Regions from separate parts of the Homo sapiens genome. Here region 1 is linked to region 2. The links come from fine-mapping of genetic effects on gene expression. A gene starts in region 2. The other region holds a variant in brackets. All regions are shown on one strand. Distances are from middle to middle.

Region 1 (4,400 bases), 62 kb after region 2:
GGGAGGCAGAGGTTGCAGTCAGCCAAGATCATGCCATTGCACTCCAGCCAGGGCAACAAAAGCGAGACTCCATCTCAAAAAAAAAAAAAAGAAAAGAAAAGAAAAATTTATATTCATCTCAGAATTTTACAAGTTTAGCTAAAGCCTTAATTTTGAGTCCCATGGTTGGTAAGTATCTCCGTTTTTAAAAAGAAGTGTTAGTTATATTTCCACAGGACTTGCTAAAAGGTGGTCTAGGCAATGAAACTGAAGATGCGGGATGAATGGGAAGAATATTTTGGAAACAGAACCTTAGGACTTGATGGACAATTAGGTGACAGGAATGAGAAAGCAGAAATACCGGATAATTAGAGTAAAAAAATAATGTACTAAGTAAGATAATGAATTAATTTATATGTTTATTGAATCCCATATAAAATTATGTAACTTGTTAGATTTCAGGGGAGATAATGGCCTCTCTATACCTGAGATCTAGGATACTGACACCATTTACATCATCACTGTAAGATAAATGAATTCAACATCAACATTTTGATCTATTCACTTATAATAAGGCAAAGGAAAGAAAACATCATGATTTTGATTATTAAAAGCCAGTATATGATGATTTGTATCTTTAGTGTATTCTAAATTTCATATATTTTACTGGGAATGTTAAAAATATTTATGAATTAGGCCAGGCATGGTGGCTCACGCCTGTAATCCCAGCACTTTGGGAGGCCGAGGTGGGTGGGTCATGAGGTCAGGAGATCGAGACCATCCTGGCTAACACAGTGAAACCCCATCTCTACTAAAAATACAAAAAAAAAAAAAATTAGCCGGGCGTGGTGGTGGGCACCTGTAGTCCCAGCTACTCGGGAGGCTGAGGCAGGAGAATGGCATGAACCCGGGAGGTGGAGCTTGCAGTGAGCCGAGATGGCGCCATTGCACTCTAGCCTGGGTGACTGAGCCAGACTCTGTCTCAAAAAAAAAAAAAAAAAATTATGAATTATATTTATTGTTGGAAGATATCACCATCTTTCTCAAGCATGTGGCAAACCAGTTGGATACTGAGAAACAATGTGGTTAACTGACTAAGATCATGAACTCTGGAGTATTTTGTCCTGGGTATGAATTTTGCATTCCCATTTATTATGAGAATTTGGGCAAGTGTTTAATCTCTTTGTGGATTAATTCCCTCATCTGTAAAGTGGGGATAACAGTATTTTCCTTTTTTAGTGAGAATTATATTAGCTAATATGAAGCCCTTAGTACAATGCCTGACACTTAGCACACTGTACTCAGTTTATGTTATAATTATTATTTTGTATTTCAGGATTATCATAGAATCCGATGGGAAAAAAACAAAAAACAGTTCTAATTTTTAGAATTCAAATATTATTTTGAATAAGTCTTCAGGAGATAGATTGTAAGTTGCTTGTGGTGATCCTAAAACTGAGCTTATGAATCAATCTCCAAAATCTATCACTTATCTTTTTTTTTTTTTTTGAGACACGGTCTCACTCTGTTGTCCAGGCTGAAGTGCAGTGGTGCAGTCTTGGCTCACTGCAGCCTTAACCTCCCAGGATAAAGTGATCCTTCCACCTCAGCCTCCCAAGTAGCTGGGACTACAGGCGTGCACCACCACACCAAGCTAATTTTTTGTTTATTTTTTTGGAGAGACGAGGTCTCACTATGTTGCCCAGGCTGATCTCAAACTCCTGAGCTTCAGGGATATACCTGCCTCAGGCTCTGTAAGTGCCAGAAGTACAAGTGTGAGCCAGCAACTTATATTTATTGAACAAATGTATTAGTGTTATGCTTTGCTACAGTCACAGTTCATGTTAGTCAATTTCTAGAAGGGTGATGCATTTCTGAATGATATGTTGAACACTTTTAATTTTT[G/A]TTGACTACTTCCTTTCCCCTCCCATAAGAATAACTGTATTCCCATGTAACTGAAGTGCATTTACACACCCCTGCCAGGAGTATACCTCTTCCATTACGTGAGAAAGAGCTGTGCAGATGTTTATGTGGCATTTGAATGATATGCTCTGCATTTATCCATGCATTCTGCTAAAAATATTGTTATTTATTTTTCATATCACCTTTTCCCCATTAGATAGCAATGTTCCTCAAGGTAAGTAATCATATCCATTTTATTTTATTCTTCCACTTGCTCACAGCATAGATATGTATACTTTTGGGTGTGCTTTGCATGAAAAAGCTGTGTACACCTTGGGGACTGACTTACTGAAATAACTTCTCCAGTATGACTCTTGAAAGAACTAGGTCAATAACCCATAGAGTTATATAATTTTTTTTTTTTTTTTAGCTTGAGGAGACCTTAGAGATCACTTTTTCCAGATCCTTCATTTTACAAATTAGGAAATGAGCCAGGATTACAACTCATCCTCTCAACTGTCAAGCCCTGTGCTCTTTCAGCCTCATCAACTGCCTCTTGGATTGAATTGTTTATTTTCCAGGTGATTTCTGCATATTATGATGTGTGTGTGTGTGTATGTCAGGGTGTGTGCATGTGTGTTTGAGTGTATGGTTTTTAGAACTTTATAACCTTGTCCAATTACAGAAACATATTTTATGTAGAAGAAAGAGGAGATGACAAAGGATAAATTAAAGGGAGAATTTTCTCTTCCTCTTGTCTTTATTAATGTTATTATCATTAAGAAACAAAATGGTACACAGAAGACAAGGGAACATAAAATTATCATATGAAACCTGTCTTTTGGAATAATCTATTTCCAGACTCCACTTAGAGATCATTATCTTGGCTACCGAGTCGGTTGTGGGGTGCTGAGACAACGTGTGTGTCTGTAATGTGCATTCAATGTATTTAGGAGAGAGACTTTGCACGTGTCTCTAATGAAAGTGAAAGGGGGCAGGGTGGGGGCCTCTGGGGAGGAGACCCACAGTGAAGGGGAGGAAAACGGGCTTCTCGCAGAGGAGGCAGGTGGAAAGAGGGAGGGGTCTGTGCGCCCGCAGAGTCGCCAGGCGCCCTGCGAGTTGTCTCCGCTGGGAGGGGCGAGGCTGTCACTTGCCAGGGCGCGAGGAGCCTCAGCGCGGCTTGGAGAACTTGGCCCCGCGCAGCGTCTGGTCACTCGCTCTCCTCTGGGGACTGCAGAGAAGCAGGACCTCGGGCCATGGGTGAGTGCGCGGGCGGGCGCGTACACCTCGCCCAAAGGCTCGGCCTCGGGAATGGGCATTATAGAAAGAAAATGAATGTTCCTCGGCCTCAGACTGCGTCCTTCCCAGCTCTGTTCCCCCCGCGCCTGGCGTCCCCCGCCCCCCGCCCTCTTGTCTCCGGACTTTTTTTTCTGGGAGAGAGGCGATGGCGATGGGGTGGCACCTGGAGGCGAGGGAGGGTGCCCGACTGTTTACAGTGGGTCGGGAGGGTGGGGGGCTGCGCTTGGGCGCTGATCCTCTGCGCCGGCCCCAGGACCCAAGCCTGGGGGTCCGGTCTACCGTGCTGGGGGCGGTATTTGGGAAATAAAGAAAGACTAAGAGACCCAGGATCCGAATAGCGAGGCGATTACAGGGAGATCTCTGTCCTCCCGAGTTCCCACGTTTTCATGTTCTCTTTGGGGAGCAAGTTGAAACGGGGCACGAGAAATGGAAACTTCCTAAAACTTCCACTTTGTACAGGTTTGAGCAGAGGAAGGTGCTGGTGCAGGGCCAGACTGGGGACAATTTCTAGTCCCTTTCCAAACGAAGTGCCCATTTGCACAAAAGGTTTGAGGTTGAGGCTGAAGGCTGATTCTTCCTAAATTCCACCTGGGTAAACAGCGTGATTAAAAGGGCGTCCACACTGGCTCGGGTCACTGGACGGTGGAGTTCGGCGCAGTTCAGCTTCGCTCAAGTTTCCAGGCAGGGTCCGCTTATTCGGTGCTTAGCGGAGGCAGCTTGGAATAGCTCCAGGAATGTGACTGCGTGTGGCGGAGGGGAGGAAGAACTGGGTGTGAAATAGCCGATTCACACCCAGCACTAGGACGCAGGGTCCCACGAGTCACCTCGAAGAGCGAGGGAGAAGCTGGGGAGGAGAAAGCACTCGCCATCCCTGGACTGGCGTATCCACAGGCGCAGGGGAGATGCTGCTCTTCCGCGGTTGCCGACTGCGTTCAGCCCGCAGCCCGAGTTACTCTTCCAACCCCAGCCCGCTCACTTCTTCCAGCCAAGTCCACTGGGCGCCCCTCCCCCTTGCTTCTCCCTTGTCCTTTGTTGTGAGGGATTTCTCCAAGAGTAAAGGAGGCCTTGGGGACTGACGTGCTCGGGTTGAAATTCCTGTATTCCCACAGGCTCAAGGGTTAGGGGATGCTTTGACTACTAATTTCTGGAGTTTATAGACAGTAGCCAACTTGGAAGAAAGGAAAAAAGAGAAAGCTGAGGACATTTTTGCCTATGAATGT
Region 2 (4,400 bases):
TAAAACCATAAAACAAACAAACAGAAACCTGTTCTTAAACTTCTCCAAGTAATTAAAAAACTGCCACTGGCCCTGTCCCTCCTTTCCCAGACTAAAGGATACAAGATAGAGTCTGTAGAAAACAGCAACAACAAAAGCAATCTAGCCCTAGTCTCCCCTCTACTGGGAGCATTGTTTTTCTGGCCTAAATTAATTTATGGCTTTCTAATCTATGGAATTATTTATGTGACTAATGGGTAACTTAAAAATATTTAGAACACCACTATTTATCATTAGAAATAAGAAGAATAAAGAATGTTAAAACTTTCAAGTAAGCATATTTAACGTCTTCTTCAGATGTCCACAGTTTTTTAAGCAGTTCTATTAATATCAACACAAGAGAAAGTCAGAACAATGTAAACAATAACATTCAACTAGTTATTTTTACATAATTACGTTTGCAGAACTCAAGAGCTTTACTTTCCGTATATGCCCTTTGAAATAAGTCATTGCTTTAAAACTTCCCAGGAACTCTAAAGCTACCATTTGTAACATTAATCTCCAAACAATCCAGTAAAGGATGTTTCCCAAAATATTAACGAATTGACAACTTTTCAAAAGCACTTAATAACTATATTTAATTTTAGATGATAGGAGGGGAAAGGTTCTCAGACCACCTATCTCAGACGTCTGCCTTCAAAACAGTTAGATATAACTATATCCATTTTCTTGAACACTTAGGCCAGTGAGGCAGAATCTCAAAAGGATGTAAGAGTGCTTTCTCCACAGAGTTTGTTTCACCACCCGCCCAGCATCAGCTCCTGGCAAGCAGGGTAATGATAAGGCATAAATCTACAAATAAATTAATGCTTAAACTCTTGTGGAGTTCAAATTTATAAATTCTCATAAATTCATTGTCATTTATTTTCTAATTTTTACAACGCAGAAATGTTATTAGAGTGCTAAGAACGGCAACTATAATCTCACATTGTTGGGCTTTGGCCGTTTCGTATCCTTTTACAACGAACTTGTGTTTTTTTGATAGTTTTCTCTAAAGGGTATTTATGAAAGATTCAGAAATGTAGTATCTCTCTTCAAACCCTTGTTAAATATATATAGTATATATGTATATATTAATATGCAAAATAATTTATTTTTGATGCATGGTCGGACTTTTCATTACTTTTCATTCGAATCAATTGCTTTTAATTAATATATTTAAAAAGTCTCCTTAAATTGTTTGTTCCTTTCAATCTTTGCAAGCAAAACAAGTCTGATTTTGGAGAGGGGAGGACAGCAAAGATTCTATTTTACGATCTACTTAATAAATAGTATACCTGCCTTATATCCAATACCGTCTTTTTTCTGGAACGCATTTCCTTTTTACTCAAACCTTTCTTAGTACAACCCTACTAATAAGTCCATCTTCAAAGGGGTAAATGATCTATACAGAAGTGTCTGGCCGGCGGAGGGATGAGAACAGCAACCTAGGCTCTAGACATATACTTAATAGCCATAAAAATAAAACAATGTCCCTCGAAATGTCCACAGTTTACACTGCAATGGTAGTTTAGATACATAAATATTCGCTGCTTGCTGTGCCTTGTAAGAATCAGGTGTGTGGCTCTAAAACTCAGTTGATTATCTCATCAGGCACCATGGTGTGCAAAGCCCTGCAGGACGTACATTACCCTGGTCCGCGATCACAGGGAGGTCAGAGCCCCTCTCGCATGACGCCGCGACAGTTCCAGCATCACCCACATCAATCCTGAGCTTGCCTTGGTATCTCTGCGGCCCCACCGGCTTCTTACCTGGAGGAGGAGGCGGCTGCAGCGGCGGACAGCGGAAGGTGCTGAAGCCGGCGGGCGCAGCTGCGAGGCGAGCACCACCAACGCGCGGACCCTCCCCGCCCTCCCCGCCTGCTCGCTCAGGGCGCCCGGGGGCGGGGCGGCCGGGCCCGCGGGCTCCGAGGGGCGGGAAGCGTGCTCCGCAAGCCCCAGCGCGGAGCCACGATGGAAGGCGCCGCGAGCCCGATCTCCAGGGTCTGCCCCAGAGGCCCACGTGACAGCTACACAGGTCGCTGATTGGAGCGCCCGAGAGGGGGAGGCGGAAGTGGCTCGTGACCCTTGGAGACTAGGCTGAGGGAGAAGTGGTTACCTGGCAACAGAGAAAGTGTGTTGAAGGCGCAGCTCCTCCGTACTGGAGCGAGGCTTTGGGCAGAGGGTTTGCACTGAGGCTGAAAGTGGAGGAAAACGGTGAACCATCAGCGTTCTCACCACCTAACACATTTTATAGCGAGTCTGCACTTTCTAGGAAAATGAGTCAAATATACAGTAAGTCAGTCATCCTGTCTCTTTCTTGAGGGACCTGGAGGAGGGACTTGAACCAGTGCCTGGAATGTGAGTGCAGAATGCTGTCTCGCCTGCACTTCATTATTGTCTGATTGGGCCCAAGAAGGTCTGTGGGAGAGCTCAATGGATAAGATTATTTGTTTATATTAATCGAGTTGTATGTGGTTAATGTATCTGCCTTCACAAAACTGACATTTTCCCTGTGGGATCTGGTTGAATGGAAGTGCTGGATGTTGTCATTCCTACTGGATTCTTCACATCTCTGAAATATCTTCACTACCTGTGGCCTTTATCCAACACACTAGAGAGAATAAGCCTCGACGTACTCGAAACAAAGTGTATTTAATGACATCTATCGAGAATTAATTATACTCCACTCTAAATAGTTAATAAATGAATGGTCGACCTCAACCAGAGAAAGTCCCTGGGCCTAATTCTTACCTTCCTATGCAGTAGATTTTAATGCTCCTTTTTTCCAAAATATTCTCTGCAGAGACGAGTACCTACCACAGCACTCAATATTCTATATTGTAAATTAAAATTAACTTAAATGTTGGATTTCCATATAAAGAATAAACTTGTTAAAGCTAAAATCAGTTCTTACAACTCCGTCCCCTATATTCTAACAAAGTATCTGATGAATAGCAGGTCTTCAATTAATTCTTGATGGATAGATGGATAAAGAAAGAAAGAAATTAGCACATAATCTACCAGAGAAAGTATAAGGGCAATAACTAAATATAACTCAATGTGTTAAGTACTAAAATAGGGTTACATAAAAGTGCTATGAGATGATTTCAGATGAGGGAGGCAGAACTTTTTCTTCCAAGGTATTCAGAGAAGCTTTCAATATGATTAGTATTTGAGCAGGGACTTATAAATAGGTAGAATTTCACCTGATAAAAAGGGGAAAGTGTATACTATGCAGCAGGAGCAGCATTGCCAAAAGCATAAAGTGGGAAAAAATAAACGATTGATGTAAATAAATTTGATGTTTTTGCCTTCTCCGGAGTTGGGGATGTGAATCCAAAGATAAGAAGGAAGATGGAAATTGGCAAAAGACTGTACTAGAAAAATAAGAAAACTTGATTGGGAAAGATGCAGAATTCTATATATGGGTTAGGCTTTAACCTCTAAACCAAAGGAAGAGATTGAAGTTTATAAAATCAGTGCTTTTTCATCAAGAAAGACACCTTGGAAACATTGGAGATACATGGGATGCAGGAAGATGAAGAACATGGTCTGTTAGGAGAAAAATTCAGTAGTTCATGGGAAAAGATGCTGATGACCTGAGTTAAGACAATGAAAATAAGAATAGCGAAGAGGGAAAATCACAAGAAACATTTCTGTGAAAACAGACTATAGTTTTCATTTATGACTGATATTTGCTAGGTATAGTGCTGAATAGTCAATGGTGTACATGAAGAGAAAATGCTGAAGATACAACGTCTAGCTTAGTCCATCGGTTGGACGGAAAAAATCTTTTATGTTTATTTTGCTCATAATGGCTCCAGCTCTCCAGTTAAGAAACAAAAAACCGGCCGGGCGCGGTGTTTCACTCCCGTAATCCCAGCACTTTGGAAGGCCGAGGTGGGCGGATCACCTGAAGTCAGGAGTTTGACGGCAGCGTGGTGGTGAAACCCCGTTCCTACTAAAATACAAGATGAGCTGGGCGTGGTGGCGGGCACCTGTACTTCCAGGTCCTCGGCAGGCTGAGGCAGGAGAATGGCGTGAACCCAGAAGGCGGAGATTGCGCCACTGCACTTTAGCCTGGGTGACAAGAGTGAGACTCCGTCTCAAAAAAAAAAAAGAAAAAAAAGAAAAAGGAAAAAGAAAGAAACATAAAATTGAATGAGACAACTGAAATTATCTAGTTGTGCACTCATAATTTAAAGATGAAGGTGTTTAAATCTCCAGTCATATTAGCAGCAGATTTTGATAGAGTGATCCCGGTCTCCCAGTTCAGGACTCTTATTCCTTTACCAGAATTTAGTTCATTCCTTTTGAACAGATTTAAATAATCACAACTATAGTTAGATTAGATCTAGAGGAACAATATACCTAATTTAT

What was found. PIP is the estimated chance that this variant, and not a neighbour inherited with it, causes the effect. A credible set is the group of variants that fine-mapping cannot tell apart.
Region 1: its variant is the best candidate, but not a certain one, in a credible set for the expression of WDR17 in blood mononuclear cells (TOPMed, PIP 0.87).

Annotation. Positions count from the first base shown.
Region 1 is chr4:176,001,050-176,005,449 of GRCh38, reverse strand. It overlaps a transcript of GPM6A not described here. Among named protein-coding and RNA genes, the nearest start is that of WDR17, 63 kb to the left of the region's middle. The variant G/A (reference allele first, on the strand shown) is at 1,885.
Region 2 is chr4:176,063,470-176,067,869 of GRCh38, reverse strand. It overlaps WDR17 (WD repeat domain 17), which reads right to left and starts at 2,029. Exons shown (of 29, transcript NM_181265.4): 1 at 1,791-2,029. RefSeq lists a silencer at 1,774-2,153.